4 separate regions of the Homo sapiens genome follow, and regions 2, 3 and 4 are each linked to region 1. The links come from fine-mapping of genetic effects on gene expression. A gene starts in region 1. Each other region holds a variant in brackets. All regions are shown on one strand. Distances are from middle to middle. Region 1 holds the start of TMEM44 (transmembrane protein 44). Region 2 overlaps LSG1 (large 60S subunit nuclear export GTPase 1). Region 3 overlaps TMEM44 (transmembrane protein 44). Region 4 overlaps LOC124909474.

Region 1 (8,102 bases):
AAGCCACTGTCAGCTGGAGGCCCAACATACCTGGATTGTGAGCTGTCTGGCCAGAAGAGCCCCGACGGTGTCACACAGACTGGTCAGGAGGCAGCACGCAGCACACAGTGCCGACTGGTCCTGTCTGGGTTTCTGTGCACATCTCAGATAGAGAAGCCTGGGGTGACAGGGGTGTGGACAGAACACAGCAACTGTGAGTTTGGACCCAAACGCATGTATCTAAAAAGGGCAACTGTGACCCCGCATCGTCAGGGAGCTCTTTCTGCCCGAGGTATTTAGGACGTGTTTTTGAACTGAGTTTACAGATGGGAACCAATCAGAAGACTCCAGAGCCGCCTGTCCAGATGCCCATGGCAGGAGCTAGACCTCGTGAGATGTGAAGACACCGCCTCTTTGGAGGAAGAGGAATTTTACTTTCCGACTCCAAATCAGGACGGCTCCATTTGATGACCCCCCACCTAGCACTGAAAAAGCAGCCATCGGGTTTTATTTTTTGAAAAGGAAACAGGAGGGTTATAAAAGTAACTCAGGCTGGGTATGGTGGCTCACACCTGTAATCCCAGCAGTTTGGGAGGCCGAGGCAGGAGGATCCTCTGAGGTCAGGAGTTCGAGACCATCCTGGCCAACATGGTGAAACCCCGCCCCTACTAAAAATACAAAAATTAGCCGGGTGTGGTGGCGTGCGCCTGTAATCCCAGCTACTCCGGAGGCTGAGGCAAGAGAATTGCTTGAACCCAGGAGGCAGAGGTTGCAGTGAGCCAAGATCACACCATTGCACTCCAGCCTGGGTGACAAAGCGAGACTCCGTCTCAAAAAAAAAAAAAAGCAACCCAACCACTGCAGATAACTGCAGAGCACAGTTAATTGCCTGAATTAAAAAGACAACTTGTTTCTCTGAAATAAATTCAAACGAAATTCTTCTAAACCATCTGTGAAGTGGGGCAGCCTGGCTTCTGCTGGCCTGTGTCCATGTTCTTTAAACACAGAGCCCTTTTGGCACTTGGAGCTGTCCCTCCCTCAGCGCCCCCACAGCCACTTCTCCCCTTACAGCCCCTCCCCAGTCCATATCCACTGGAGAAGATGCACGGAAGGGCAGGAAGGGGCTGGCTGTTTCTATCAGCGTCACTGATAGGGCCTCTGAAATACGTTGTTGTACATGCCTCCCGAAGGGGCTGGCTGTATCTATCGGCGTCACTGATAGGGCCTCTGAAATACATTGTCGTACATGCCTCCTGAAGGGGCTGGCTGTTTCTATCGGCGTCCCTGATAGGGCCTCTGAAACACGTTGTCGTACCTGCCTCCCGAAGGGGCTGGCTGTTTCCATCGGCGTCACTGACAGGGCCCCTGAAATAATACGCTGTCGTACCTGCCTCCCGGAGGGGCTGGCTGTTTCCATCGGCGTCACTGATAGGGCCCCTGAAATAATACGCTGTCGTACCTGCCTCCCGGAGGGGCTGGCTGTTTCCATCGGCGTCACTGATAGGGCCCCTGAAATAATACGCTGTCGTACCTGCCTCCCGAAGGGGCTGGCTGTTTCCATCGGCGTCACTGATAGGGCCCCTGAAATAATACGCTGTCGTACTGCCTCCCGAAGGGGCTGGCTGTTTCCATCGGCGTCACTGATAGGGCCCCTGAAATAGTATGCTGTCGTACCTGCCTCCAGAAGGGGCTGGCTGTTTCCATCGGCGTCACTGATAGGGTCCCTGAAATAATACGCTGTCGTACCTGCCTCCCGAAGGGGCTGGCTGTTTCCATCGGCGTCACTGATAGGGCCCCTGAAATAATACGCTGTCGTACCTGCTTCCCGAAGGGGCTGGCTGTTTCCATCGGCGTCACTGATAGGGCCCCTGAAATAATACGCTGTCGTACTGCCTCCCGAAGGGGCTGGCTGTTTCCATCGGCGTCACTGATAGGGCCCCTGAAATAGTATGCTGTCGTACCTGCCTCCAGAAGGGGCTGGCTGTTTCCATCGGCGTCACTGATAGGGCCCCTGAAATGATACGCTGTCGTACCTGCCTCCCGAAGGGGCTGGCTGTTTCCGTCGGCATCACTGATAGGGCCCCTGAAATAATACGCTGTCGTACTGCCTCCCGAAGGGGCTGGCTGTTTCCATCGGCGTCACTGATAGGGCCCCTGAAATAGTATGCTGTCGTACCTGCCTCCAGAAGGGGCTGGCTGTTTCCATCGGCGTCACTGATAGGGCCCCTGAAATGATACGCTGTCGTACCTGCCTCCCGAAGGGGCTGGCTGTTTCCATCGGCGTCACTGATAGGGCCCCTGAAATAGTATGCTGTCGTACCTGCCTCCAGAAGGGGCTGGCTGTTTCCATCGGCGTCACTGATAGGGCCCCTGAAATGATACGCTGTCGTACCTGCCTCCCGAAGGGGCTGGCTGTTTCCGTCGGCGTCACTGATGGGGCCTCTGAAATACGTTGTCGCACGTGCCTCCTGGAGGGGCTGGCTGTTTCCGTCGGCATCACTGATAGGGCCTCTGAAATAATACGCTGTCGTACCTGCCTCCCGAAGGGGCTGGCTGTTTCCGTCAGCGTCACTGATGGGGCCTCTGAAATACGTTGTCGCACATGCCTCCTGGAGGGGCTGGCTGTTTCCGTCGGCATCACTGATAGGGCCTCTGAAATAATACGCTGTTGTACCTGCCTCCCGAAGGGGCTGGCTGTTTCCGTCGGCATCACTGATAGGGCCTCTGAAATAATACGTTGTCGCACGTGCCTCCCGAAGGGGCTGGCTGTTTCTATTGGCGTCACCGATAGGGCCTCTGAAATACGTTGTCATACCTGCCTCCCGAAGGGGCTGGCTGTTTCCCTCAGCGTCACTGATAGGGCCTCTGAAATATGTTGTCGTACCTGCCTTCCGAAGGGGCTGGCTGTTTCTATCGGCGTCACTGATAGGGCCTCTGAAATACATTGTCGTACCTGCCTCCTTGCTACATTTCTCTGGAGACACCGAGACAGGGTGGCAGCGCTGGCTTCATTTCCACTCAGCAGAGGGTGGTGCTCATTCCACATCCTTAGGACGATTTAGCTGATTCTGAGCGCCTGTCCTTGGGAATGGTGGATGAGTACAGAGGGCTCTTGGCTTTCTAAACATTTCCTGACCTGCTGGCCCAAGCCTGAAGCTCACAGTGGCAACATCAACTTCAGTCTGGGCCCTGGGCTCCTAAAACCAATTGAAGACCAAGGAGTGGAGATTCTTAAATTGGAGACTCCCAGAGGCGGACCCCAATTAGAAATAATTTATATCAACCCTCCCATTTGAGAGGACAAAACTGAGGCCTCTGGTGAGAAGGTGAGTTAATGGTGGTCTTCTGGCTTCACACGCGGGGGCTTTGCTCCGTACCCTGTTGTTCTCAGCCACTTCCCCAGCTCTTGGGGCCAGGGTGCCAGCTGACCTTAACCCAGCCCACACACCACTCCGAAGACACATTCTTCTAAGAGAAAGGGGAGCAGGGGAGGTTCAGGGATGGCAAGGCCCTGAAAACAAATGGGTATGTCCAGATCCCAGGCAGGGTGAGAAGCAGAGGCTCACTCTTAACCCCTCCAAGGTTGGCAAAGTGCCTAACAGTGCTGGTCTGAGGACAACTGTGAGGAACAAAAGGATAATGCGTGTCCAGCGCCTTGTTAGTTTCCAGCCTCTGATCTGAACAGTTTAATCTCTCTTACCAGCCTGCCCCTTTCCAATAGGATCTGGGGTTTTGGTTCTTTCCTTTCACTCAGACAAGTTATTTAACCTCTCAGAACCTCAGGGTTCCCTACAGAAAGTGGGGGTAACAGCACCTACCTCCTGGTGCTGATATTGTGAGTGGCAGGCATTGAATGAGTTAATGAATGCAACACTGGGCCTACAGTAAATGTTCTAGGCGTCTTTTTATTTGTATTGCAGTACTGGGTAGTGGGGCTGCAGAATCTCTGCAATACGACCAAACGCCTTAGGAGAATATCCACTGAGTGCCTACAGGGAGACAGTTCTAACCTCTCCCAGGGGTGCTGGTCCTTTCTCCCCTGCCAGGGAATGCTTGGGCGGCACCATCCTGAGCACTGCTAGTGGATTTCCATGCCTAGGACAGAGCGGCTGAGGACCTGGAGATTCACTCTTAGAACTTAGGCTACCGTGGGCATCTGGACAAACCAGTCCAGGTGCTGGACAGACCAGGGCAAAGACAGGCCAGCTGGATCATATCACTACCTCCCTTCCCACCTAAGAGGACTTTGGGTAAACTGAGGCCAGAAACATCAAGGGACTTGCCAAGGTCCTAAGAGTTGGTGGCCTAGCTGGAGCAATACAAATGATGTTTAATGAGCATTTACTAAGTGCTTTAACGGTACTGATTCATCGAATCCTCCCATCATCCTATGAGGTATTATCTCCGGTCATAGGAGGCCCAGAGAGGTTCTGGAGCTTGCCCAGGTCACACTGCGAGTCAATGGCGAAGGGCTGACAATAGCACCCAGGGCTCGCGGTGTCCTCGGGGCCCCATCCGCTGCACCACCCAGCCTCCTCCCTTTGGCTCACAGCCCAGCTTCCCTGTGCGTGGGATCCGGAAAGAAGATCCCACTTCAGTCTACAGAGCAATGTTCCATTGGATCCTATTACTGAGCCATCTCCTTCATCCCCCTTTCCGCCCCCTCCTCTAGGTTTCCGAGAGGGAGCAGCAGGGGATTGGCGCCCGTTTCCCCGCCCGACAGCCCCCCGACCCGTGGCCCCATTACAGCGCGTGGGCGGCGATCCAGCAGGAGGAGGCGCAGATCCACAGGCCGAAGGAGATGCAGACGCGGTGGCGGGCGAAGCAGCGGTCCAGGTAGTCCCAGTCCCAGAGCGCGGGCGCGGGGCTGGGCGCCTCCCCCATGGCGCGGCTGGGCGCGCGGCGCGGGGCCGGGGACCTGGGCGCAGCCTCCCTCGCCGCGGGCAAGCCCCGAGCGCCGCCGCCCCGCGTGCCCTTCTCTGGGTTCCGTTCCGCCGCGGCGCCTCCGGCCGAGCGCACCGACCGCGGGCAGAGAAGGGCGCGCTCCCGGGCGCGGGCGGCGGCGGCGAAGGCGCCGGGGAAAAGTTTCCGGGACCGCGCGCTCCCCACCCCTCGCGCTATTGTCGGGGGTCGGCAGGGCGGAGGCCGCCCCCCAGCGGCGGGAGCCGGGAGCTGCGCGCGCACAAAGACTGCGGCCCCCGCCCCCCGCCGACCTCTTCGCGGTCACCCACCTCCAACATCCTGGCCGGAGCGGGGCGGGCGGCTGGGCTCGCGGACGGCCGAGTCCCTGCCGGTCGCTGTAAGGCACGGCGTCCCTTCCTGCGTATTGTCCACATTTCCTGAGCCAACAGCAATTAGTTGCGCTGCTGAAGCGCATGGGTGCTGGGATCCCGAGGTGAAGGGGGCGTGGTCCTGATCGCCGACAGGGCGCAGTAAAAAGGGTGGGGTGCAAGACCAGGAAGGAGGAAACAAACGTGCCGGAGAACAAATACCCCCACATCTGCCTCTCACTCTCCTTTCTGAAGCTGCCAACGGCACCCTCCGCCCCCAGGCAGTCGCCCAAGCCCTGCTCCTGGATGTCATCCTAGCCCACGGCCCCGCAGCCAAGAGCTGGTTATCTCTGCAACCGGCCGCCTCCTGTCCAGCCACACACCGCACAGTTCAAGTACACAGGGCTGTTTTTCTTGAGAGTAAACTATTATTGTAATTTTTAAATCTCCTTATTGATTTTAGTAGGTTTGTTTAAAGCAAGACATGACTTGAAAACAATATTTCTATAGAAGGAGCAGGATTGAAAAAAAGAAAAAAAATCTTTTTTAATTTTCAAAAACTACAGCTTTATTTAGATATTATTTATATGCCATAAGCATAGTCTTTTTTTTTTTTTTTTTTTTTGAGACAGAGTCTCACTCTGTTGCCCAGGCTGGAATGCAATGGTGCGATCTCAGCTCCCTGCAGCCTCCGCCTCCCAGGTTCAAGCAATTCTCCTGCCTCCGCCTCCCAAGTAGCTGGGACTACAGGTGCCCGCCACCACACCCGAGTAATTTTTGTATTTTTAGTAGAGACGGTGTTTCACCATGTTGGCCAGGCTGGTCTTAAACTCCTGACCTCGTGATCTGCCCTCCTCAGCCTCTTAAAGTGCTGGGATTACAGGTGTGAGCCACCACATCCAGCCTACATAGTACTTTTAAAATGTACAATTCTGGCCAGGCACGGTGGCTCACAACTGTAGTCCCTGCACTTTGGGAGGCTGAGGCAGGCGGATCACTTGAGGTCAGGAGCTCAAGACCGGCCTGGCCAACATGGTGAAACACTGTCTCTACTAAAAATACAAAAATTAGCCGGGCATGGTGGTGCGCGCCTGTAATCCCAGCACTTTGGGAGGCCGAGGCAGGTGGATCACTTGAGGTCAGGAGTTTGAGACCACCCTGGCCAACATGGTGAAACCCCATCTCTACTAAAAACACAAAAATTAGCCAGGCATGATGGCAGGCGCCTGTAATCCCAGCTACTCGGGAGACTGAGGCAGGAGAACTGCTTGAACCTGGGAGGCGGAGATTGCTGTGAGCTGAGATGGCGCCACTGCACTCCAGCCTGGGCGACAGAGCAAGACTCCATCTCAAAACAAAACAAAAAATAAAATGTACAATTCAGCAGTTTTTAGTGTATCCATAGCGTTGTGCAACCAACATCACTGTCTACTTTTAGAACATTTTCATCACCCCCATCTGAAAAGAACCCGGCCCACTGGCAGTTACTGTCCACTCCCCTCAACACTCGCAGCCCAGGAATCGCAAATCTACCTTCTGTCTCTATGGATTTGCCCATTTTGGACATTCCACATCAATGGAATCATCCACTATATGACCTTTCTGTGACTTTCACTTAGCATGTTTTCAAGGTTCATTCATGTTGCTGCGTGTTATCAGTACTTCATTCCTGTTTATGGCTCATCATAATACATGGTATGGGTATTTTTATACCACATTTCGTTTATCCACTCATTAGTGGGATGTTTGGATTGCTTTCACCTTTGGGCTATTATGAATAATGCTGCTCTGAACATTTGTGCACAAGTTTTTGTGTGGACACAGGTTTCATGCTCTCTTGGGTATATACCTAGGAGTGTCCTTGCTGGGATCTGTGGTAACTGTGTTTAATGTTTTGAGGAATTGCCAGACTATTTTCCAAAGTGGCTACACTATTTTAGTGGTTCACTGTGTTTTCAAAGTTATGATTTGGCTTGGTAAGGTGGCTCATGCCTGTAATCCCAGCACTCTGGGAGGCCAAGGTGGGAGGATCAGTGGAGCCCAGGAGTTGGAGACCAGCCTAGACAACATAGGGAGACCCCGGTCTCTCAAAACAAAACAAAGTTATAACCTCTCAGGAGAAATGAAATCTAATCACTAATTTGATGGTATTAGATTGGTGCAAAAGTAATTGTGGTTTTGGCTATTAAAAGTACTGGAAGCGGTAGCTCACGCCTGTAATCACAGCACTTTGGGAGGCTGAGGCGGGTGGATCACTTGAGGTCAGGAGTTCCGGACCAGCCTGGCCAACATGGTGAAACCCTGTCTCTACTAAAAATACAAAAATTAGCTGGGTGTGGTGGCAGGCACCTGTAATCCCAGCTACTTGGGAGGCGGAGGCAGGAGAATCTCTTGAACCTGGGAGGCAGAGGTTGCAGTGAGCCGAGATCACGCCACTGCACTCCAGCCTGGGCAACAGAGCAAGACTCTGTCTCAAACAAACAAACAAAACAAAACAAAACAAAAAAAGCCAGATAAAAGTACTTTGGTACAAAAGTAATTGCAGTTTTGGCCATTAAAAGTAAGCTTTGGTGCAAAAGTAATTGCGGTTTTGGCCATTAAGAGTAAGCCACTTTTTTTGGCCATTAAAAGTGGCTTACATTTAATGGCCAAAACCGCAATTACTTTTGCACCAAACTATATTAGGTGGCGCCTTTAGGAACCAGAAAGCAGGCCCTTCAACTAAATCTGCAGGCACCTTGATCTCGGACTTCCTAGCTTCCACAACTGTGAAAAACAAATCTGTGTTATTTACACGCCACTCAGTCCAAAGCATTTTGTTATAGTAGCTCAAATAGACTAAGACAGGCATTG
Region 2 (8,103 bases), 30 kb after region 1:
AGGGAAAAAGACAGTACTTCCTAAGTCTCTCCATCTCTACGATTCTAATTACTAATTTCTTTTCATAGCTGTTGTTATTATTATTATTTTGAGACAGAGTTTCGCTCTTGTTGCCCAGGCTGGAGTGCACTGGCATGATCTCGGTTCACTACAACCTCCGCCTCCCAGGTTCAGCCGATTCTCCTGCCTCAGCCTCCCGAGTAGCTGGGATTACAGGCACCCGCCACCATGCCCGGCTAATGTTGTATTTTCAGTAGAGATGGGGTTTCTCCATGTTGGTAGGGCTGGTCTCGAACTCCCGACCTCAGGTGATCTGCCCCTCTCGGCTTCCCAAAGTGCTGGGATTACAGGAGTGAGCCACGGCACCTGGCCCTCTTATAGATATTATTTTATTCAAAAGTAAAAATAAAGCCCAAACTACTTTTGCAAAATTTGGGCTAAAAGATAAAATATGTGGTATATCCTAATTTAGGGTTACTTAGTTTCTCTGTTTTCAAAACAAAGTCAAAAGAGATTCTAATCAAGTCCTGAGAACTGACTACATCCTTCAGTTGTACTCTTGTGTTCTGACTTCTCTTAAAAGCAGTTACAGGGTCATTGTGGAACTTCCTATACAATTTCCTGTCTACAACCTTTTAAAAAAATTTAAAAATACAGCTAATATCAGTGTGTAACAACACTGGAGAGGTCAGACTGTCCAACAACCACAGAGAAAGTAACTTTGTGATTCACTTTCTATAGGTCATCCTAATCCAGCACACAGAGGAAAAACTCTAATTCCCACAGATTTTCCATAAGAATAAACAAAACACAAACGAAGCACATTAACAAGAAATCAAAATTCCCTCTTTGAAAGCCAACCTAAAATGTCCCTCAGGTTACCTCAGAGTCACCATTCAGGGGAATGGCTCCGGCCAAAGCTGACCAGAAAATAACCTTCACATCTTCTTTTTCGAAGTACATGGCCCAGGCACTCCGCTGCTCAGCAGTCAGCAAGTCTGCCTTGTTGATCAGAATGACGTTCTCCTTATTGGCATCCATTTCTTTCACATAACATTCCTAAGCAAGACAAAGAGATTTAGAAAGACCTCTTCAAACAAGTAAAAAAATGAGGCTAATTATATTAAAGATCCCAATACAAGTTTTTACTGCCCCTAGTTTTAAATCATTTCCTAATTTAAACATTTTTAATCATGACACATTATACTAATCCTTTCAGTAAGCTTTGAAAAGAAGTTCCACCATTAATATTTTTGTTATGCACCAGTGGGTTTAAAAATAATCTGGGCCAGGCATGGGGGCTCACGCCTGTAATTCCAGCACTTTGGGAGGCGGAGGAGGGAGGATTGCTTGAGCCCAGGAGTTCGAGACCAGCCTGGGCAACATGACAAGATCCTGTCTCTACAAAAAATTAGATCTATAAGATAGTAATAAATAAATAAATAATATGTATTACAGTTCTCAAAAAGAAATATGAATACCTCACATATTATACAATGTTTTGTTAACTAACCCAAAGCTGTATTACATTATTTCATGGGACTCTCACATGTTAGTTATCAGCCCCTGTGGTGTTTCATAAACTTAGTTCACTTGTAAAATACCACAGGGAGTCATAACTAAAGTGTGAGAAGACAGAACCTTATGGGATGAATTAAAAAGTGAAGTGACCGGCAATATGCTAAAATAAATAAAATGCTATTTCAACTGGTGTTCCCTGACAAATGGGAAACCGGCAAATGCCTTAAGTGGCTTCTAAACTAAAAGCTAGAAAGCTCATTTAAGTGTCTGTGCCTTCCTGCAGATGGACACCATTGTTTGAGAAAACATCTGTCTCAACAGTGGCGTTCTGCAAGCTCCTGGCCTTGGAAGGAGGGAAGGCCTCACTAAACGAAGCCAGAGAGGGCAGAATGTATGCCTACAGTCATTGCTGAGGGATGCGGTGCTGGCACTGCTACTCAAAGGACTGATGTTTGAATTTTGTCAAACTTGACTTACCAAATCCTCACATCTAAACAGGAGTGGGTTTCGAGCATCTACTATCTGGACCACAATATCACTGAAAAACAAACACGAGATAGACCAATCACCGTGAAGTGAAAGGGATTTTACTAACCACATAATAATGGCCAGAGTAGCAAACCCTGGCAATATATTAAGCACTGGACATATATTAACTTTTTAAGGTATAATTATTCCCGGTTTATATATGAGTGACTTAAGGCTCAGAGCAGTTAAGTAACTTGCCCAAGGCCACCAGCTAGTAAGTAACACAGCCAGAATGGGAGCCCAGGCAGCCTGGACCAGAGGTGATGCTCTTAATCATAACATGCTATTGCTCTCATACAGCCTAGAGGGGTTCGGATGATGTTTCATTGCTAAGACATCCACCGTACTTCTATTAAACTGTCCTGGTGAGATAAAAGAGTATTCCAAACACTTCACTCCACGGCAAAGTCTACTAAATATTCAATCCCTAATCTGCCCTCATGTTAAGGCCTCAAAAGAAAACTAGTAAATCACTTGCTGACAGCTGCCACTATTGAAGCTAGTATCTTATTTAAACCCAGGAATAAGAAGGAAGAAAGCATATTTTTGGCAAACAATCATCCACCAATTCCAACAATGTGTTTAAATGGCAAAAAGAGAAAACAGGAAAGTATTAACTTAGGTTGCCCGGCTGAAGCAGGAATGGCAAGTCCAACTTCTTCCATCACGTATAAGAAAGTACAGCAATAAGATAACTTTCTGCAGCTGGTGGCAAGCCCCTCAAATCCCTCACAAATATAGTGGGGACTACAGGTGTCCAGCACTGCAAGGAGAAAAAAAAATTCCCTTCTATGGGAGGCTCCTCCCTTCCTTCAGCCTCTGTGCTAGATGTTATAAAGGCCCACCGTGACTGCCGCTGGGAGGACATAAGCTACAGATGCATGACTACCTCACGGCAGAGTCTCCCCAAAATCCTTATTCTGTTAACCAGCCTTTTCTGAGGCAACTTTGCAAATATGCTAAATTCCAAGGAATTAAGGTTACCATTTAGGACATTCTTTTGACAATTAAAAGTGCATTTTCTTTTAGGATAGTTAAAATGTCAGCATAATCCTCTGACACAAACTCACAGAGTTGCTAATTTTGGACAAATTGTTTTTTAAGTTCTCTAGTTCAGCTGCTTCTAGTATTTCCTTCTTTAAGGTAATAATGCACTTTCAAACTGGATATTTAATAGTGAATGAAAAAATGATTACAAAAAAATGGACAAAGCCTAATCAACTAAAACTACAATGTCTACAAACATTATGTTTACATACAGAACATGTAGGAAGAACCATCAGTTTAGAAATAGCAGTAAGAAAAGACATTTCAAGACAGCTGCTTCATGTGCTGAGTGAGGATGCAGAGCAAAGCACCAGCCATGTAGCAGGAGGGGT[C/T]TACACAGCACAATGGAAGTGCCTTATCTGACTGGAAGACAGTGTTCCGCCCTCAGTGCCTCTGCGGTTTCCTGCATTTCAAGGACATGTTATACATCTAATCTTTTCTGATAACTACTATTAGAATTAAAGAGGCAGATGGTTTAGCCAGCCTGTTACCAAACAGGAGACATCTGCTGTGGAGAAGACATCAATAAATATTTCCCATTCAAAGATGTGGCGGCAGTCATTTTTAAATAAATATTTCTGTGTAATTCAGATCCACTTTCATATAACTATATTCCTTGAGCTAGAAAACATGTTCTCTTATTTAAAAAAAGGAGAAATATCACATAACAAAAATAAGAGAGCAAATAATACTGTAATCCAAGCTGAAGCTAGAAGTTTCAACATGTACAGGCTCACTTGGGAAATTATTAGGGACATAAACAGTGTAAGAGGGGCTTCCTGTTAAACTGAACACAGATGGTTACCTCTGCTCCCTCTCAAAACCTACAAAAACAAAGGCTGAAACCCATTAGGATAAAGAGAAAGAACAGCAGCAACCAAATGTCAAACCAACAAGAAGCAAACCTGTTCATGCCCCTGACGCCCAAGAAAGCCCAGTATTAGAAACATCAGCTCTATCTCTCCAGGGCAAGAACGAGGCCCGCGCCCGTAATCCATCTGAACAGTGAGCTCATAGGTCGGCTACCCTGTTCCATTCAGTGAGGCAACTGCAACCCACCACACAGCCCCCATTCCCCACCCCAATAGCAGAAGGCTAGGGTTTATTATGGAGAAAATGAACTTGACAAGTTCCAGGACTGGGACCTCAGGCACAGGGAAAATGGGAAAGAGTTGCCATAGGGCAAAAAGGGGAATTCAGCATAAGCCTATGAAGATACTGAACTGTGAAGGTGCCCAGCACCCTTGTATTATACCACCTCCTGCCCCTTTCCTGGCAGGAGATCATTCTTCTTTTTAAAAACTGACTGGCACTGGGCACAGTGGCTCATGCCTGTAACCCCAGCACTTTGGGAGGCTGAAGTGGGTGGATCACCTGAGGTCAGGAGTTCGAGACCAGCCTGGCCAACATGGAGAAACCCCGTCTCTACTAAAAATACAAAATTAGCCGGGCGTGGTGGCGCGTGCCTGTAATCCCAGCTACTCGGGAGGCTGAGGCAGGAAAATCGCTTGAACCCAGGAGGTGGAGATTGCAGTGAGCCGAGATCACGCCACTGCACTCCAGCCTGGGTAACAAGAGCGAAAGTCCGTCTCAAAAAACAAAACAAAACCACACACACACAAAACTGACTGGCTCTGGGGAAAAGACCTACAGATCTTAACATCTTGGGGTATTCCAACAAAATAAAACTGACCCCTGCCCAGGCACCCTACAGTGAAGCTCACCAGTTGGCAAATTCCACCTAAACAGGCAGGCTTGTCAACCGGCTTTGTAATGCTTTGTTCTTAAAGACAGATAAACACCACTAGACACCTGAGGAAGGCCTCTTCCGTAAAAGTCAGAAACCAGGAGAAAAAGAAAAGGAACAAAGAGGAAAGACAGATAATATAGGAAGTAGGACAAAATCTGAAAACAAAACAAAAACTGTAATTAAGTGTGAAGATGGAGGGTGCTGTCCTCAAGGTCCGGGCTGCAGTACTTCTGCACTTGTTACCATTTCTCTTCGGAAATTAGAAAACGGGCATTCTCAGGAGTACACAGCATCAACTACCAAGGAGGCACCAACGAAGAGGCTACTCTGCTCCACAGCAGTTCCCCAGTTCCCCAGGAGAATGACTGTGGGCCTTCCGAAGCCCTCCTCAAGCTTGAGTAAAAGGAGCCTGCATGGACCCCAAATCAGCAGAAACCCTTTCCCTTCTTCCGCCTCAGAGAAAGCCTTTCCCTTCTTCCGCCTCAGAGAAAGCCTTTCCCTTCTTCCGCCTCAGAGAAAGCCTTTCCCTTCTTCCGCCTCAGAGAAAGCCTTTCCCTTCTTCCGCCTCAGAGAAAGCCTTTCCCTTCTTCCGCCTCAGAGAAAGCCTTTCCCTTCTTCCGCCTCAGAGAAAGCCTTTCCCTTCTTCCGCCTCAGAGAAAGCCTTTCCCTTCTTCCGCCTCAGAGAAAGCCTTTCCCTTCTTCCGCCTCAGAGAAAGCCTTTCCCTTCTTCCGCCTCAGAGAAAGCCTTTCCCTTCTTCCGCCTCAGAGAAAGCCTTTCCCTTCTTCCGCCTCAGAGAAAGCCTTTCCCTTCTTCCGCCTCAGAGAAAGCCTTTCCCTTCTTCCGCCTCAGAGAAAGCCTTTCCCTTCTTCTGCCTCAGAGAAAGCCTTTCCCTTCTTCTGCCTTAGAGATTTGCCTTGCTTCTCTGACCTCCCCGCATCCCAGCCCAAGAGCCCTTTCTGTACCCGTAGAGAGCTGAGGATGGGGGCATTCAAGTGACTTTGTCATCACCCTAATAGGAAATGTAAGTGACTTTTACAAGTTTAGTCCAAGTACTGTTTTCTTTTTTTTGGAGACAGAGTCTTGCTCTGTCACCCAGGCTGGAGTGCAGTGGTGCGATCTCGGCTCACTGCAACCTCCACCTCCTGGATTCAAGTGATTCTCCTGCCTCAGCTTCCCAAGTAGTAGCCAAGCCTGGCTATTTTTGTATTTTTAGTAGGGACAGGGTTTCACCACGTTCCTCAGGCTGGTATCGAACTGCTGACTTCAAGTGATCCACCTGCCTGGACCTCCTAAAGTGCTGGGATCACAGGTGTGAGCCACCGCGCTGGGCCCTGTTTTCTTAATAACAATGCTAAATGTGATAAGATTCTTTTCTGAGAATCCCAATTAAAGCATTCTGTTTCCTAGTGTTCTTACTAGGTTCACTTTATAGATTTCAAAGGAAAAAAAACCAGCCTGAAGGGTCCTTGTTGAAAACATTTCAAATATAAGGTTCATTTATGGCATCCTTGAAAGTAATTCAGAAACTCTTTGAGGAAAACAGAAACCTTTTAACTATACCAAAGAGGTGAGATTAGAGACAGGTGTTCATCAACTTCTAACAATCAGGAATTCTCCTTAGCATTACATGAAAAAGAATAAAGATCTCCCATTCTCAATTTGTCAAAATCATTCTCTTCTTTTCAGAGCCCAGTTAAAAAAAATAAAAACCAGGCCGGGCATGGTGGCTCATGCCTGTAATCCTAGCACTTTGGGAGGCTGAGGCGGGTGGATCACGAGGTCAGGAGTTCGAGACCAGCCTGACCAACATGGTGAAACCCTGTCTCTACTAAAAATACAAAAAAAAAAATTAGCTGGGCGTGGTGGTGTGCGCCTGTAATCTCAGCCACTTGGGAGGCTGAGGCGGGAGCACTGCTTGAACCCAGGAGGCGGAGGTTGTGGTGAGCTGAGATCGTGCCATTGCACTCCAGCCTGGGCAATAAGAGCAAAACTCCGTCTCAAATAAATAAATAAATAAATAAATAAATAAAAAACATAAAAACCACCCCGTGATTTCCTCAATACTTATCAACCACTCCTTCCTCTGCTATGACTCAGCCCACTGCCTTTCTATCTGCAGCAAAGCAGGAATCATACTGCCCTCTGTATTTCACTACGTATTAAGTTTTCTGAGTGCAAGAATTGCATGTCATTCATCTGTGTGTCCCTGGTGCCTGGTGCTTTGCTTAGCATTTAGCTGAACATGGTGTAACTCGGCTGACAGGAGCTCTGACATTCGCCTCTCCCCATAACATAGATGCTCTTTGCAGGCAGGAACTTAACTCTTTTTCGTATCCATATTTTCCACATTACCAGTAGAAACCAAATATACATTTGCTAAAATATCTATATAGGTGCTTCAGAATTCACCTTGCAGAAAATGTTCATTATTCTCACACACTTATCAACATATTCATCTAACAACAAAAAAACTATACAAAATATACGGTAGTATCATGCTGTGTTTTTATAATTCTCAGTAACCCTCTGCATAGCTTAATTCCCATACCCTGAGCCTATAAGCCTATATCAACAGCCAAATCGAATATAACTTCACTACAATGTCTTTATTACACAAAAGAAAATGATAATTCACCTTCTCTCAATGACTCTCCAGAGCTGGCGCCAAAAGTCCAAATTTCGTTCAAATGGAGTCAATATCAGCTTCTGTTCCTCTTCTAGCCTAGTTTTTGAATGAGAAGTTTATATATTTGCCAGATTATAATAGACAATTTTTAGCAGTGTAAATGCTCAAATTTATTACATTAAAAATAAGTACTGGGCACAAATATCCAGAGTCAAATTATTTTATATATTTCCTGCTGAGACACCATAAAAATACTATTTATTTAGACAATACTCCACCAAATTCAAATTTTATCCTGAAGCTATTTATGCCCTGGAAGTTTACCTATCACACAAAGTCATTTCTTTCCCACACTCTTACTGGAAAAATGTGCAGGAGAGCAGCGATCAACTCCAGGATGCCCAATGGCCAAAGAAGGGAATGAAAGGAAAAGGCCCGGAACTGAGCAGAGTAACCAACTCACGATCTCTGTGCAAGGATGCATTTGCACCTAGCAATCTTGTTTGTGCATACATCTATTTGCACTTGTTAGCAGAATGCTACCATTTCCTTCTTAAAAGAATCAAAACTTCAAAACACAAATGGCTGTGTAAGCATGCCAAATATCTGAACTCAGGATTTCAAAGTAAG
Region 3 (8,094 bases), 42 kb before region 1:
TGTGAAGGGAGGAGGCTGGGCTAACAGGATCTAGGGAGATAGATGATATCTGGACCTTAGGTAGTTCGTGTTACTCAAAGTCAGCAAGGTTTTTGTTGTTTTTTGAGACAGTCTTGTTATGTTGCCCAGCCTGGAGTGCAGCAGTGCGATCTCAGCTCGCTGCAACCTCCACCCCGTGGGTTCAAGCAATTCTTGTGCCTCAGCCTCCTGAGTAGCTGGGACTACAGGTGCGGGCCGCCACACTTGGCTAATTTTTTGTACTTTTAGTAGAGATGGAGTTTCACCATGTTGGCCAGGCTGGTCTTGAAGTCCTGTCCTCAAGTGATCTGCCTGCCGCAGCTTACCACAAGTGCTGGGATTACAGGTGTGAGCCACTGCACCTGGCCAAGATCATTTGATGTTCTTGGGTGAATGGCCACTTTCACCTGGATCCCACCAATTTTTGGTGCCCTAGGGAGCATGATCCAGAGTTCCCTCAAGACAGAGGATGTGCTAAAGGCAAACTCCAGAGGTCATCCTATCCCCATGCCTTCCGCCTTTCTAAAGAGAAGCTCTTCTGCCCTGCTGTTACCACTCAGTACTCTAGATTAAACCTGTTCCCCACGTTCATTCTGTACCCATGACTATATTTCTGCTTCCTGGAAAGTTGTAGCCATAGGAATGAAAAACTCACCAATCAGTTGTGGTCTTCCTGAGGCAAGTCAGTCACCTTCCTACTCTGGTATCTTCCATGGCTACCAGCTGGCCACAGAACCAAGCACTGACTCACCAGCCTCCAGTCTGGTTCCTTTTCAGCCTTTTTGCCACCCCTACAGCCCATACTACATCATCCATTCTGGCCATCTCAGATTCTTCCTTGCTAGCTCCCACCTTTCCCTGCATCCAGTCCTCTGTACTATTTCATCTATTTGAACACTCTTTTCTCCCTGCATCCTGGGTCTCCATTCAAATCTTCCTCTTCCCTGGAAGTACAGCTTCAGTGGTTAACATCACAAAGCAAAGCTGACTTCAGCAAACTTTCCAAGACAACCAGGGACCAACACAGTTCAGATTAAAGGGGATAAATAAAGTGGCTTTAAGATCACTTGTAGTTCAGAGGTCACCCAGGGGATTAGGATCTATGCAGAGACCTGCAGAGCCACGCTGCTTCCCCAAGGGACCCCCTTCATGCTGCTGGAACTTGCCCTACCCCTCAGGAGAAACTGGGCTGCTGTAGCTGCGTCACGCAGGCGGCTGTGGGCCAGCCCGGAGCAAAACTGTGTTGCTTGGCATTTCTCCACTTCCTCTCGTGGCCGACGTCATTCTGTGACTGTGCAGGGATTCATGCTCGCCATTGCACTCCACAGTGAGATACTTGAATTGATTTAAAATTTATTCACCCCAGTGTTCACTCCCACCTTAGCCCCATTCCATGCGCCCTTACCCTTACTCATCGCAGTATCAAAATAACTCCCAAATGGGATTGCTGTGCTTGAACACCTCCCATCATGCCTCTTACCTTCTGCATGCATTTAGTTAGTTCCTGAAGCATACAGCCCCCTCACCTGCAAGCCCCGCCTCAGCGCACACCCTTGCCAGGTTGGAGGAAGTCCTGGTACCCGGAGCAGTTTGCTTTGTTTTTGCAGTGTCAGTGATCTCACAAGCACTTGGTTGGCCACACAGTCCTATCGATAACTTCCAGCAGATAACCCAAGTGGGTGACTGGGGGGTGGAAGCCAGGTCTCGGTTCCTGTGTGTGACCCAAGGCCCCCCAGCACAGGGCCCACCCTCTCATCTGGCTCAGCCAGGTCTTGCAGAATGGGCTCTGCTGAGATCTAACCAGACACATTTGCTATCTGTTAGGTGAGCTCATTCCTGGAACCTAGCAGGTATTCCGTTCATGGCTGACTCTCAAGGGAATGAAGGGAAAAGGAAGAGCGGGTCTGAGATCCTTTGGATTATCTTTACGAAGCAAAAGCTTCTGTGAACTGTGATCTTCAGAACGAATGCTGGGCCTATCCAGGTCTGTCCGCAGTACCCAAAGTCGTAGCTCCGTGATGAGCTATGATGTAGCCCAGCCACACTCAGTGACGGCTCCTGGTTCCTCACTTGCCAGGGCAGCTTCAGTTCCTGCCGCGGTGTCAGTGCAGATTGATTCCCGCTGCGTTACTGAACGAACTCCTGACCCTGGGCTCTGAGCTGATGAGCTGGCTCCAGAAGGTGTTAATCATCATCACTCAGGTGTGCTGTCCTCACAGAGTCCTGGTGCACCTGGGATCCCAGTAGCTCCACATTTTCTTTGCTGCCTTCGAGGTTCACATCTTCAGGGTCCCACTATGGAGAAAAGATGCAAAGGGTAGCTGGGTGGAACGGATAGATGCTTCTCATCTGTCATAACCCCTGACCCAAACAAAAGCTCCAATCTTGGTTCTCATGATCCAGGCACAGACAAGGACAAAAGGGTAAGGACAAGTTACCCAGGCCTGTGTTTCTGGGACCTAAGGAGGCAAGCATAACTTTACATCAAGCAACTAATGAACAACCACCCTAAACATAACAGCTTCACTTTCCTTCCCGCCCTCATTCTCCACTCTTCTCTGCCTCTACCAAGTCCTTATCTAGTGACACTGAGTCATGTTCTCCTTATCCTGACTCCATGCCTAACTCATTCCTGGAAAAAACCAGGCAAACTTAATCCTTTTTTATTTTTTTAAGACAGGGTCTTGCGGTGTCACCCAGGCTAGAGTACAGTGGTGCAATCATAGCTCACTGCTGCCTCAAACTCCTAGACTCAAGCAATCCTCCTGCTTCAGCCTCCCGAGTAGCTGGGACTACAGGTGTGTACCACAATGCCTGGCTAAGTTTTTAATTTTTAGTAGAGATAAAGTCTTGCAATGTTGCCCAGGCTGATCTCGAACTCCTGGACCTAAGCAGTCCTCCCGCCTCAGCCTCCCAAAGTGCTCAGCTTACAGGCTTGAGCCACCATGCCCAGCTTCAACCTATTCTTTATGGGCCAGGTAAATACCTCTTCCCCCAGGAAGCCTACCTTGACCGTGTTAGCCCATTGAGCTCTCACCTGCCTTTCTCTTTGTATTACCTATTCCACTGATTTGCCCCTGAGCACGGACAGCCCTGGCGTTTATGCGGACATCTGCCTTGTTGTCTCAGGTAGATGATGGGCTCCACGGGAACAGAGCAAACGTTCGCTCCTGCTCCTACACGGTGTTTCCTCTAAACCTGAGGCTCAGCCGACTTGTCATCACTTAAAACCCAATTCAGAGCGGGGGGGCACTGCCAGTGAATAGTTCATCACCGACTCAGGTGGGTTTGGGAAGTTGAAATTTGCAGGGGTGAGTGACGGGTTAATACAAGTGGGCACAGAAGCATTGACAAAGCTGTCTGTGAAGCCCTCCTGCTGTTCTAAGATGATGGATTAGAGCCCAAGGGGATCCTTGGTGTTACCTTTGAGGTTCCAGCCATGGAGGCAAGTAGGGATTGGGCTCCAGTTCTCCTCCTGTCACTAATTTGCCTTCGTTTTTGGGGCCTCAGTTTCCCCATGTGTATGCTGTGGTATTGGATCAGCAACGAGATAAGAAGATCTCTCCCATTTCCAAGCGTCTATGATGATTCTGAGGCACAAGGTCACATTTGACAGTACTAGGAAACCCAGGAAACAAGAAGCAAAGATGACAAAGGCTGTGTCTGCCTGGGCAGACGATCTATTTGGACAAGATAATAGACCCAGGCATGGACATGCTCTCCAAGAAAGATGCCCTGACAGCTGCTCACACTGAAGCTGAATCGAACATTCCAATCCTTAGAGGTTCCAGCGAAGATCTTGAAGTCTCCCTGAGCCATTGACACAATGGCCATGCCATCCCAGTGATAAAACACAAATTGTGGCCTTGTTTTGGACAGAAATAAAGAGCCCAGTTTGTTAGTGATTTACTGATAATAACTGAATCGAGTACTAATACTTGGCGATTTTAAAAGCCATCATGTTAAAAAGACCACCTGATTCCCAGTGACCCTGCAGTGACTGGGTTTGGGCAGCTCGTCCCCTGCACCTGTTTGGGGCTGTGCCAGCCACTTCCAGTGAGAACATCGCATTAACTTGCGGTCGCAGACCTGGCTGGACCCCTTGAACCAAATTCCTTTCTGACCTTATCAGACCCCAAATAAAAGAGCTCACCAGGCCCCTCAGCCTACGTGACCCACCTGCCCAGTGAAAAAAGTAGGGCCCTGTTCTGTTCTCTGAGGATGGTCAGTGTGCTCTTTGATGAAAACGGTTTCTAAGCTGAGGCCTGAGACCTAGATCATTGTTCTCACAGCGTGTGCTTGACCAGCCACACCAGAAGCACCCAGGCTGCTGGCTAAAAACACTGATGCTGGGGCCCACCCTAGCCCCTGGGTAGGGGGTAGAGACCTAAGGTTTGGCATTTTTACAAGCTCCTAGGGTGATTCTTAGATGCCCTGATGATTGAGAACCACTGCTCGAGCTTCTTAAATGGCTGCTGAAGAATGATTCTTGCCAACCGTGACCAGTTCAGCAGCCTGCAGACAGAAACCTGTCACTTTGATCAGGTGAGCTCTTTAAACTAGTACAGGCCGGGCACGGGGACTCACGCCTGTAATCTCAGCACTTTGGGAGACTGAGGCGGGCAGATCACCTAAGGTCAGGAGTTCAAGACCAGCCTGGCCAACATGGTGAAACCCCGTCTCTACCAAAAATACAAAAATTAGCCAAGTATAGTGGTGGGCGCCCGTAATCCCAGCTACTTGGGAGGCTGACACAAGAGAATCGCTTGAACCTGGGAGGCAGAGGTTGCAGTGAGCTGAGACTGTGTGATTGTACTCCAGCCTAGGCAACAAGAGCGAAACTCCATCTCAAGAAATAAATAAATAGGCTGGGTGTGGTGGCTCACGCCTGTAATCCCAACACTCTGGGAGGCTGAGGCGGGTGGATCACCTGAGGTCAGGAGTTCGAGACCAGCCTGGCCAACATGGTGAAACCCCATCTCTATTAAAAATACAAAAAATTAGCCAGGCATGGTGACAGGCGCCTATAATCCCAGCCACTTGGGAGGCTGAAGCAGGAGAATCG[T/C]TTGAACCCCGGAGGCGGAGGTTGCAGTGAGCCGAGATCACGCCACTGTACTCCAGCGTGGGCGACAAGAGTGAAATTCTGTCTCAAAAAATAAATAAATACATAAATAAGTAAGTAAAAATAAAGTGGTACAAATCTTAGAAAACATTTAGAATCTATTTTTTCTGACTCTCCAGAATAATGTGTTTTAAAACTTCATTATTTATTTATTTATTTATTTTGAGACAGAGTCTCACTCCATCACCCAGGCTGGAGGCATGATCTGGGCTCACTGCAACCTCTGCCTCCTGGGTTCAAGTGATTCTCCTGCCTTAGTATCCTGAGTAGCTGGGACCACAGGTACACACCACCACACCTGGCTAATTTTTGTATTTTTAGTAGAGATGGGGATCTCGCCACGTTGGCCAGACTGGTCTCCAACTCCTGACCTCAGGTGATCCGCCCCCCTCAGCCTTCCAAAGTGTTGGGATTACAGGTGTGAGCCAACGTGCCCGGCCTAAAAACTTCATTTTATAATAAAATCATTGGGCCAGGCGTGGTGGCTCACGCCTGTAATCCCAGCACTTTGGGAGGCCGAGGCGGGTGGATCATGAGGTCAGGAGATCGAGACCATCCTGGCTAACAAGGTGAAACCCCGTCTCTACTAAAAATACAAAAAATTAGCCGGGCGCGGTGGCGGGCGCCTGTAGTCCCAGCTACTCGGGAGGCTGAGGCAGGAGAATGGCATGAACCCAGGAGGCGGAGCTTGCAGTGAGCCGAGATCGCACCACTGCAGTCCGCAGTCCGGCCTGGGCGACAGAGCGAGACTCCGTCTCAAAAAAAAAAAAAAAAAAATCATTGCTGGAAACCAGGCATGAAGAGAATCTGAGCAAAAGATCCATTTTCATATCAGAAACAATCCTGGGAGATGACAGGCACAGGTAGTTGTCACAAAACATGCCTGTCACTTGGAGGCAAGGGTGGCATGGAGACAGCAGCCAGCTGCCCAGGGTCCCAGAATGACAATGTCTGGAACTGTTTATTGCAACAGCTACTGCAGCCATGCCGGCCACTACTACTGTTGTTCCAAACCATGTTTCTTCACTGGGTTACACGTCTTCTTGGAGTCCCTATTACTTGGGCTTACCTGAATACCCCCAAAGCAGAAAGAACTCTGACCTGAGAGAGCCCTGAAAATCCCATTCATCCTCAGTCTTGCCTCTCATTTTGACTTTTTTTTTTTTGAGATGGAGTTTCACTCTTGTTGCCCAGGCTGGAGTGCAATGGTGCAATCTCGGCTCACTGCAACCTTCATCTCCCAGGTTCAAGCGATTCACTTGCCTCAGCCCCTGAGTAGCTGGGATTACAGGCATGTGACACCATGCCCGGCTAATTTTGTATCTTTAGTAGAGACAGGGTTTCACCATGTTGGCCAGGCTGGTCTTGAACTCCTGACCTCAGGTGATCGCCCACCTCGGCCTCCCAAAGTGCTAGGATTACAGGTGTGAGCCACCGCGCCTGGCCTGACATTCTTTTTTTACTGAAGGAATTTGTCATGGGTCTAGCCATCTAACAAGGTCTAACAAAAACAGGAACTGAAATCAAGCCATAGGAAGTCCCTCCTGGAAGAGAAAGAGCATGATCGTCCATACCTGCTCCGAGTTTAGGGCCTCCCAATACTTCTGCTGCAGAATAAAAAGAGAGACAGAAAAAGTGTTGGACAGATTTTGCCACCATCCCACAGCAGAGCAGAGCTCAGGACCAGCTCCTGTCTGCTCAGTGAGCCAGGAGACAGGCCCTTAGATGGTTGGGGGCAAAGGAACAGGTGACTTCAGCAAGCAGGAAGGCAGCAGCTACTAGCAGTTACAATTTAGTTAAATGATCAATGAGATAGTTATGATAATTATGAAGGGCTGCACGTCCTGGGAAAAATTACAATCTATCAAGATTTAAAAATTACTATTAGTAGAAATTATTATTATTATTAGGAGGAGTAGCAGTAATAATAATAAATCTCCCATTTATTAACCACATGGCTGAGATGATTCAACTCAAACCCATAAAACTGAGATGCCAATAAAATTCCTGCCTTGCAAATATGGGGTATTTGCTACCAGCCAAGATTCATTTGTAGTCAGTGTTTACTGCATGGTTGGTTCCACTCCAAACCTCAAATATGTCTGACTCAAGTTCTTGCAGGGCAGGCATCACGTCTGCCCTTGTTACTCCAGCACCTCCTGCAGCGCCTGGGAAACATATGTTTCTGACATGAGCTAAGAATCTATGAATATCTGTTACATTGATCTGGGAATGTCTATTAAATTAAATAGCAGGCAGTCCGAGCAGTCCACAGGATTTAGGGTTATTATCACATTAAAACAAAAGCATGTTCAACTCCTTAACATTTTTCATTAAAAAAAATCAATTAATTAATTTTTTTGAGAGAGGGGCTTGCTCTGTCGCCCAGGCTGTAGTGCAGTGGCATGGTCATAGCCCACTGCTGCCTCCATCTCCTGGGCTCAACTGATCTTCCTGCCTCAGACTCCTGAGTAGCTGGGACTACAGGTGTGTACCACCATGCCTGGCTGACATTTATTTTATTTTTTTAGTGGAGATGAGGTCTATGGTGCCCAGGCTGGTCTTGAACTCCTGAGCTCAAGCAATCCTCCCACCCTGGCCACCCAAAATGCTGGGATTACAGGCATGAGCCACAGCACCTGGCCTAATTTTCTATCTATCTATCTATCTATCTATCTATCTATCTATCTATCTATCTATATCTATCTATCTGTGTATGATGGAGTTTCACTCTTGTCACAGGCTGGAGTGTAATGGTACGATCTCGGCTCACTGCAATCTCTGCCTCCCAGGTTCAAGCAATTCTCCTGCCTCAGTCTCCTGAGTAGCTGGGATTACAGGCGCCCAGGACCATGCCCAGCTAATTTTGTATTTTTAGTAGAGATGGGGTTTCACCATGTTGGCCAGGCTGGTCTCGAACTCCTGGCCTCAAGTGATCAGCTTGCCTCAGCCTC
Region 4 (8,103 bases), 47 kb after region 1:
GCGGAAACTGTCGCCCACCAGGCTTGTGACTGGAAGATGGGCCAGATCCTCCCGATTCCCCACGTAGCTGAACGCTTCCGTTAAAGCCAGGATTCTCTGAAAAGCTGGCTCCTGGAGGAGGCTGCATTGATTTGGGGATTGGAAGCCTGGCACCCAGCTTCTAAATAGTGACACAGGGAGTGTTCCCTATTCATGGGGTTGCATAATGCTTGATTTCTACCGCGTCTCAACAAATGTAGTTACAAGCTCTGAAACCCACACCCAGCAACAAACTTTGGAGTTGCTTTCAGCTTTCCAAGTCCACACTGTTGTGCCTCTGGGCTCCACATCTGTCTGAGGAAGGAGAGGAAAGAGTGGGTTGGTTTCTGTTGTTTTTCCTGTCATACTTTGGCCAAAAATGAGTTGGTGGCAGAAAAGTTGTTCCAAGGCGAGCTTGCAGTCTGGTCTCTCCTTCTTTCCCATACGATACACCACCTCCTTCTACAAGGACATTAAAACAGTTTGCATAAGACTGAGAGTTGTGAAAATAGACACTGGCAGCCTCTGTAGAGCGTAATTGAATCAGTAGGGAAACTCCCTATGATTAACTGCCATTCTCAGTTTATCCCTATTGAAAATGGGTGGATTCTCACGAGTTTCATAATTCAGCAGATTTTAAAAAATCTTTTAAATTGACATATAATAATTGTATGTATGTATGAGGTGGTTTTGATACATGTATACATTGTGTAATAATCAAATCCGAGTATTCAGCATATCCATCACCTCAGTTATCATTTCTTTCTGGTAAGAACATTCAAAATCCTCTCTTCTAGTTATTTTGAAATATACAACACAATATTGTCAACCATAGTCACCCTACTGTCAGCAGACATTTATTGGTGGCTATTATAATGATTAATTTGAGTCCCTGCAATCAAACATTGATTTCTTGCCTGTGCAAGGAAATGTGTAAAAGACCTCTTGCTTTGGTGACACAGGCCACAAGATCCTATGTATTTGAACCCACGAACTTTTTCTCAACTCGTGTTATGTATGGAATATCTAGTGTCTTTTATTCAGAGATGCCTTTGCAATTACTTTTTCCCTCTTGACAGTCAAGTGAAAAAGGGTATTGTTATTTTACTGCACTTTTAGCTGTAGAAGTTGAGTCTCAATAGGGTTAAGTTAAGCAAATAAAGTAAAATAAAGGAGGCTAGAAGTAGAATTAATAATCACCAACTCTAAAATCTGTACATGGAAAGTCCTAGGTTTCTCCCATTCATTCATTCACTCATTCATTCATTCACTCACTCATCCATTCATTCATTCACTCATTCATTCATTCATTCATTCATTCATTCATTCATTGGTTCATTCATCACAGGACTCTGAGGATTCAGCACTGGACGAACTCCCTGCCCTGAAGAGCTTACACTTTAGTGGTGATCAGCCTAATAGAGAGACTCAGCCAGGGTTAAAGAGCTCAAGTCAGGGAGCCATGAACTACACCACCAGGTAGACCTTACTCCATTAAGAGGGCTTCTGACCACCAGGATTTTATGTTTTGTCTCTGAAAGTGATCCATCTCCTTAATTCCCCATAGTAAATATCCTAATACATATATGCATGTAAACCATAGTAAATATCCTAATATATATATGCATGTAAACCTGGATGGTGCTGGAACGCACAACTATGTCGTATGAGGAAAAGGTGATGGAAATGAGACTAGCCTAAGGAGGGAGGCTCCAGGGGTATGTGGGAACCATTTCCATTGATGTGGAGGACTGTCATAGGGAAAGGAGAGAAGACTGTTCTGAGAAGACACAAGGCAAGAACAACCAGAACAAATGGGTAGAAATCACAGGGTTATAATTTGAGGTTCAATTTGTTGGAAACTTCTTACAATCAGAGGGGCTCAAAGACATATTGGACAGCTTAGTAAGGTAGTGAGCTCCCTGCCACCAGAGGCATTCAAGCAAAAACCAGATAATCAGGTGTCAGATGTTCTAAGTCAGGTTCAAGCCTCAAAGTGGGTGTTGGAATAAAGAACTGCTAAGGTACTTAACAGATTCCTGACCCTGGTAGGTTCTCTTCCTTTTTATGCTATCCCTTGCCTCATCCCAGTATTTGAAATCGCAAGGGAACAGTGATGGTCTCAGAAATGGTGCCTAGGTTGGCAAAAGCAGGGTGGTGCCTTCAGCATGTCACATGAGAAAAAGAGTACATCTTGCCCTCATTGTCATGAGATAGTTGAGGGTACCGAGAACCAACATTTAGCAAATTCAGCCATCATTAGTCACAGATACTACTAACACAAATGGAAATGTTAAAAAGAATCAGTTTGAATGAAAGATCCATGGTTTCTGCTTTAAAGTTAATCATGTAGGGGTAACATGTCCCCTCCTTCCATCTTCAGAGGGGACAAACCCATCTTGACTGGTCCCTGCCTTTGGTGGCACTGAGGAGAAGGCTCGTTTGTAAGGCTCATGATTTCATCACTCTTGGCTTCCTTCTAGTGCCCTTGCATTTCTGCCTGGATCTCCAAAGCCTATGTTCTTTGTGTTTGGGTCAGGCGAGGGCCTGACTCCTGATGGCAGGTTGTCCATCAGAACAACTACCTTCTGCATGGACCATTTTCTTCCTCTGGACCGCTCTCTCCTGCCTCTGTCTACGGCAATCTGCCCATCCTTCCATGCTTAGCATGAAGTCCGCTTCCTTCCTAAAGAGGGCCCTGGCCTGGGCACTGTTTGACTACACGTTATTTCTCCTGCAATGGGAAATGGGCTACCAGACTCTCAGAGACCCAAGTGCGAACCTCGTCCAAGGTTCCAAGCAAGCAGCCCATGAAAGGAGAGGCTCCAAGGCAAGGGGCATGGTGAGAACACTTCTGGGAGCTTTGGTCACAGGGTGACCTCCAGAGTTCGTAGACCTCTGACTTGTCTGTTGGTTCTCTCTCACTCCTGCAATTTCCTGTCATGGGCTCTGTTTTGATCTTTTGTCTTTTATATTTATTTATTTATTTATTTTCAGCGCGCTTTGTTGGAAACATGGCTTCTGTTTTGAGTTAATGGTGTCCCTTACAAAGACATGATCAGGCCTGGTGGCTCATGCCTGTATGTAATCCCAGCATTTTGGGAGGCTGAGGTGGGAGGATTACTTGAGCCCAGGAGGTCGAGGTTGTGGTGAGCTATGATAGTGCCACTGCACTCCAGCCTGGGCAACAGAGCGAGACCTAACCCCTAGTACTTGTGGATGTGCTTTTATTTGGAAAAAGGTCTTTTTTTTTGAGATGAGGTTTCACTATGTTGTGCAGGCTTGGTCTCAACCTCCTGGGCTCAAATGACCCTTCTGCCTGGGCCTCCTGAATATTGGGATTACAGGCATGAGCCACTCACTGTACCAGGTTTGGAAAAGGGTGTTTGCAGATGTAATCAAGTGAAGATGAACTCATACTGGATTAGACGGGCCCTAATCCAGTAACTACTGTTTTAGAAAGAGAAACATTTGGCTGCATATGCAGAAGACAAAGAAGGAGAGGCCAGAGGCAGAGACTGGAGCAATATGTCTAAAAAACAAGGAACGCCAAGGATGACAGGCAGCCATCAGAAGGCAGTAAGATGCAAGGAAGGATGCTGCCTTCTCCCAACCTCCAAAATTGTGAGGATACATTGTTGTTGTTTTCAGCCACCTCATTTATGGTAATCTGTTATGGCAGCTGCAGGAAATACCTGCAGCTTTCTTGTGATCTTAGAAATGAATGAGGATTTGCTCAGCTCCCCAATAGGCAGAGAAGGGCAGCAGCGTGCTCCGGGACCCTCGGTGAGTCAGGGCTGGAGGGCGGGGGTCTGGATTCCTTCTTGGCCAATCTTGTGTACCTGAGCCTTGGCTCTGATCGTGGCATGTCCCTGCTCTAGCACCTCCAGTGACTCACCACAGCTTATGAGACGCCTCCTCCTGCCATTCAGGGCCATCAGGAGTCAGGCCCTGGCCTGACCCAAACACAAAGAACACAGGCTTTGGAGATCTTGGGCAAATTTCTTAACTCCTCCAAGCTGTGGTCCTTTCCCCCGGAAAAATGAAGAGACTAGCACAGACCTGACAACACTCTTAGGAGCATGAAATGTTTGGACGGATCTGACTCAGCACAGTGTCTGACATGCGGTAGGGGCTCAGTGCTTTTGCATTCCCTCCTTTTGCCCAGTTGTTGGATGTTCAACACTAACTACCTTCTGCATGGGCCATTTTCTTCCTCTGGACCGCTCTCTCCTGCCTCTGTTGACAGCAATCTGCCCCTCCTTCCATGCTTAGCATGAAGTCCACTTCCTTCCTAAAGAGGGCCCTGGTCTGGGCACTGTTTGACTACAAGTTATTTCTCCTGCAATGGGAAATGGGCTACCAGACTCTCAGAGACCCAAGTGCGATGTCGACCACAACAGAGACCCGTCTCACTGGTGGAGTCCTGTGACAGTCATGCTTGACTCTAACGTCTTTGGGGGCAGTGAGAGCCATTAGCAAAGTGCACTTTTCATTAAGGGGCCCAGCGAGTGGCCACTCAGTCAAGTCACAGAAGTATGTTTGGCTTTCTGCTCCTGTTCAGATCATCAAATGAACCTGTGAGCCCCCAAGCAGCTCTTCCTAGAGGGGGAGCAAACGAAGGACGTGGGTTCTACATACATATATGTGTTTAGAAGCTTTTGGCTTTACGTTTAGCCACAGGAAAGGGCCCTGGATTGAGATTCAG[A/G]CCACATGGATCCTCATATTGGTGTGGCCACTAAGTTACTGTATGGCCATGCACCTGCGCTGTCAGGGCCTCAGTGTCCTCATTTGTAAAGCCAGGGGAGGTTGACTAGATTATCTCGAAGGGCCTTCCAGACAACGCTCTTCCAGTTCTGACAGTCTGTGCTCATGACAGTCCCATGACTTTGAAAATAAACACATGGTTAATGTTCGTTCTAGAAACACTTGCCATACATTAATTTGGTGGCTGGCATTGTGCTGGAAGTTGGGGATACAAAGAGTGAATAAAATACAGTCACCAGCCATAAGGAGCCCATAGTCTACTGGGGGAGACAGAGAGTTAAAGACGATACTATAGGCCAGGCACGGTGGCTCGCGCCTGTAATCCCAGCATGTTGGGAGGCCGAGGTGGGCAGATCACAAGGTCAGGAGTTCGAGACCAGCCTGGCCTTGGTGAAACCTCGTCTCTACTTAAAAAATACAAAAATTAGCCAGACGCGCTTTTGCGCACCTGTAATCCCAGCTACTCAGGAGGCTGAGGCAGGAGAATCACTTGAACCTAGGAGGCAGAGGTTGCAGCCGGCCGAGATTGTGCCGTTGCACTCCAGCCTGGGCAACAGAGACTCCATCTCAAAAAAAAAAAAAAATTAGCCGGGCATGGTGGTGGGTGCCTGTAATCCCAGCTACTCAAGGGGCTGAGGCAGGAGAATCACTTGAACCTGGCAGGCAGAGGTTGCAGTGAGCCAAGATCACGCACTCCAGCCTGGGCAACACAGCAAGACTCAAAAAAAGACAATATTATAACAGGGCAAGTGCAGAGGTAAGGATGCACACAAGGGCATGTGGAGAGGCGATGAGTAGGCCTAGGCGGTTTACCTGGAGAAAATGGTATCCAAGATGGCTCTGTAAGAATGAGTAAGCCTTGGCCGGGACAAATGGCAGGAGGAGGTCATATCAGTTAGATAGAGCCACATAAGGCATGGCAGGAAGGGAAAAACCACTCTCATGAGCATGGGGAGAAGCATAGGCTATTCTCTGTGGCTGGTTCATAAATTAGGAGTCCAGGAGAAAAGAATGAGGTTGGAGACATAGGCAGGTGCCAGACCTGAACATTCTCATGTGTTATACTGAGGAGTGGGAGTGTACCGTGTGGCTGATGGGAAGCCATTTTGAAGGTTAAAAGGGGAAGAGAGAAAAGGTCAGAGGTGTGGTTTGGTAAGTATTGAAGGTGGCTTTCAGAGGGGCAGGTTGAAGGGAGGAGAGACTTCGGAGCCTGGAGGAGGGAGGTGGGCTTGGGTGTGGACGTGCTTTTTGTAGGTTGGCAGGGGCTGGAGGTTGCTCTAACTGCCTCGTTTTTGTGGGGGAAGCACCCGGTCAGTTCTGCTGAGCTCTGGGGGAGCCAGTGGCTTTGGGAAACTAGTGAGGACTTAGCGTATGTGTTGAGGAGAGTGGGAGAGGGAAGAGAGTCAGGATAAGGGAAAAGATGGCTGGATGGGAGGTGTACTGCTGCTGGAACAAACTGCCACGAACGTAGTGGCCTAAATCAACACAAATTCACAGCGCTGCAGGTTAGAACCCAACACGGGCCTCACTGGGCTAAAACCAAGGTGTCTGATAGCCACCTTAAAGAAGCAAAAAGAAATAGGTAAGTTTTTGTTGTTGTTGTTGTTTTTTGAGACAGACTCTCGCTCTGTCGCCCAGGCAGGAGCGCAGTGGCACAATCTCGGCTCACTGCAACTTCTGCCTCCCAGGTTCAAGTGATTCTCCTGCCTCAGCCTCCCGAATAGCTGGTATTATAGGCATGCACCACTATGCCTAGCTAATGTTTGTATTTTTAGTAGAGACGGGGTTTCACCATGTTGACCAGGCTAGAGAAATAGGTAAAATTAATCTGAATAATTTATTTAAATCAACATAGCCAAAATACTATCATTCAATATATAATGAATATAACATTATGAAGATTTTTTGCATTCTTTTTGTTTTACTAAGTCCTGAAAATCCAGTGTGTAGTTCATACTCGTAGTGCGTCTAAATTTGGGCCAGCTATGGTTCAAGTGGCAGCAGCAGCCTGTGGCTGGTGACTGCGTACTGGGCCGCACAGGCTGCAATGCTCTCCCCCATCTCTTTGCAGGTTCATCTCATTCCTGTCTCTGCCCAGAGCCACCTTCCCTGGCCATGCTGTCTAAACCAGCCACCTCTCACTCCTAGCACTGCCTCCTTTTCTCCAGAGACTTTTCACTATCTGCTATTTCATTAGTTTTTTGTTTACTGTCTGCCCTCCTGCCTCCACCAGAGGCTATAAATCCCATGCAGGCAAAGACCTCTCTATCTGTCCTCTTTAGTGCTATATCCCCAGCAACTATGTGACATTCATGGGAGACTCTCCACAAGTATTTACTAGATGACATTGAAGATTCCAGATTCGTCATGTGTCATCTCTGAAGTCAATGTCCACTGAGTAGGATGTTGGAGGAGGGGCGAGAGGAAGGAGCATTATGTAAGACGTAAGGTGGGAGGAAGCTGGTCCAAATCCTCTGTGAGATGAAAGGCTTACTCCTGGATGTCAAGTTTAGGGCTGGGACTCCTGATGGCAGCATTTCCTTCCAACTGCGACCCGGTTGTGTGTAGTTTCAACCACTAGCTTATCTGGTTTGACGAGAAACCATCCACCGAGCAGCATTTCTGCCTGCTACCAGTAGATGGGGGCAGTGTCATTAAAAAAGTACACTGCAGTTTCTAACCTGTTTCCCAGCTCCACTTTGCTGACAGTCTGTTCTGGAGTTGCCCTGTCTCAGATCTGTGATGTGGACTCCCACATGGTGCTGCCAGCTCTCCCAGCTGAAGAAACGCAGCCTTAATTGTGATGTGTGCTTCAGGTGGGGTGGTCAGCTTCTCCATAAGGTGAGGCGGGCCCTAGAGGCTGGCACAGGTCCAGGCCACAAGGGGACCGCGGGTTCTCCTCCAGGGCATGACTCACACCAGGGTGTTCACACTGGCCTAGAACCTTTCTGTTCTCCCAAGGTTGGAAACAAGCTTATTAGGAAGGCGGTCAAGGCGTGACATAGCCTCGTCAACAGGAGCAGCTCTGTGGGCCTGTGCCGCTGGGACTGGCACTCCGGCTGCTGCTGAACAGCCCGGCCCACCAGTAGACTCCTCCCTGCCTCTGTGGGCCACTGGGGTCCATGCCACTGCATGAAGTGCAAAGTGGTGCCTCTCGCTGAGGCTGAGACCAGCCTTAGCTCCTGCTACTACTCCCTCTTCCTCTTCCCCAAACCCTCTTGAGCCTTGGAACTTTGAGCGATTTGGAAATGATCACTGCTTAAACATGATGTCTGCTTTTGTGGAGTTCAAGATTATGGACCTACTAAAGGTCACTGA

What was found.
Region 2: its variant is fine-mapped to the expression of TMEM44 in whole blood (INTERVAL, PIP above 0.99).
Region 3: its variant is fine-mapped to the expression of TMEM44 in spleen (GTEx, PIP 0.98).
Region 4: its variant is fine-mapped to the expression of TMEM44 in spleen (GTEx, PIP above 0.99).

What each region holds. Positions count from the first base shown.
Region 1 is chr3:194,628,353-194,636,454 of GRCh38, forward strand. It overlaps TMEM44 (transmembrane protein 44), which reads right to left and starts at 5,067. Exons shown (of 10, transcript NM_001011655.3): 1 at 4,727-5,067; 2 at 31-157. The coding sequence starts at 4,863. TMEM44-AS2 (TMEM44 antisense RNA 2) reads left to right here and starts at 4,576. Exons shown (of 2, transcript NR_186047.1): 1 at 4,576-4,815. RefSeq lists a silencer at 4,836-5,265 and an enhancer at 7,816-8,102.
Region 2 is chr3:194,658,075-194,666,177 of GRCh38, forward strand. LSG1 (large 60S subunit nuclear export GTPase 1) reads right to left here. Exons shown (of 14, transcript NM_018385.3): 5 at 7,483-7,569; 6 at 1,999-2,059; 7 at 883-1,059. Among named protein-coding and RNA genes, the nearest start is that of LSG1, 10 kb to the right of the region's middle. RefSeq lists a silencer at 3,312-3,512. The variant C/T (reference allele first, on the strand shown) is at 3,429.
Region 3 is chr3:194,586,327-194,594,420 of GRCh38, forward strand. TMEM44 (transmembrane protein 44) reads right to left here. Exons shown (of 10, transcript NM_001011655.3): 10 at 1,352-2,313. The coding sequence ends at 2,203. It overlaps TMEM44-AS1 (TMEM44 antisense RNA 1), which reads left to right. Exons shown (of 3, transcript NR_047575.1): 2 at 2,699-2,816; 3 at 3,529-4,506. Among named protein-coding and RNA genes, the nearest start is that of TMEM44-AS1, 6.1 kb to the left of the region's middle. RefSeq lists an enhancer at 2,362-3,561. The variant T/C (reference allele first, on the strand shown) is at 5,084.
Region 4 is chr3:194,675,357-194,683,459 of GRCh38, forward strand. It overlaps LOC124909474, which reads right to left. Exons shown (of 3, transcript XM_047449428.1): 3 at 1-480. The coding sequence ends at 287. Among named protein-coding and RNA genes, the nearest start is that of FAM43A, 6.5 kb to the right of the region's middle. RefSeq lists enhancers at 1-340, 7,522-7,571. The variant A/G (reference allele first, on the strand shown) is at 4,727.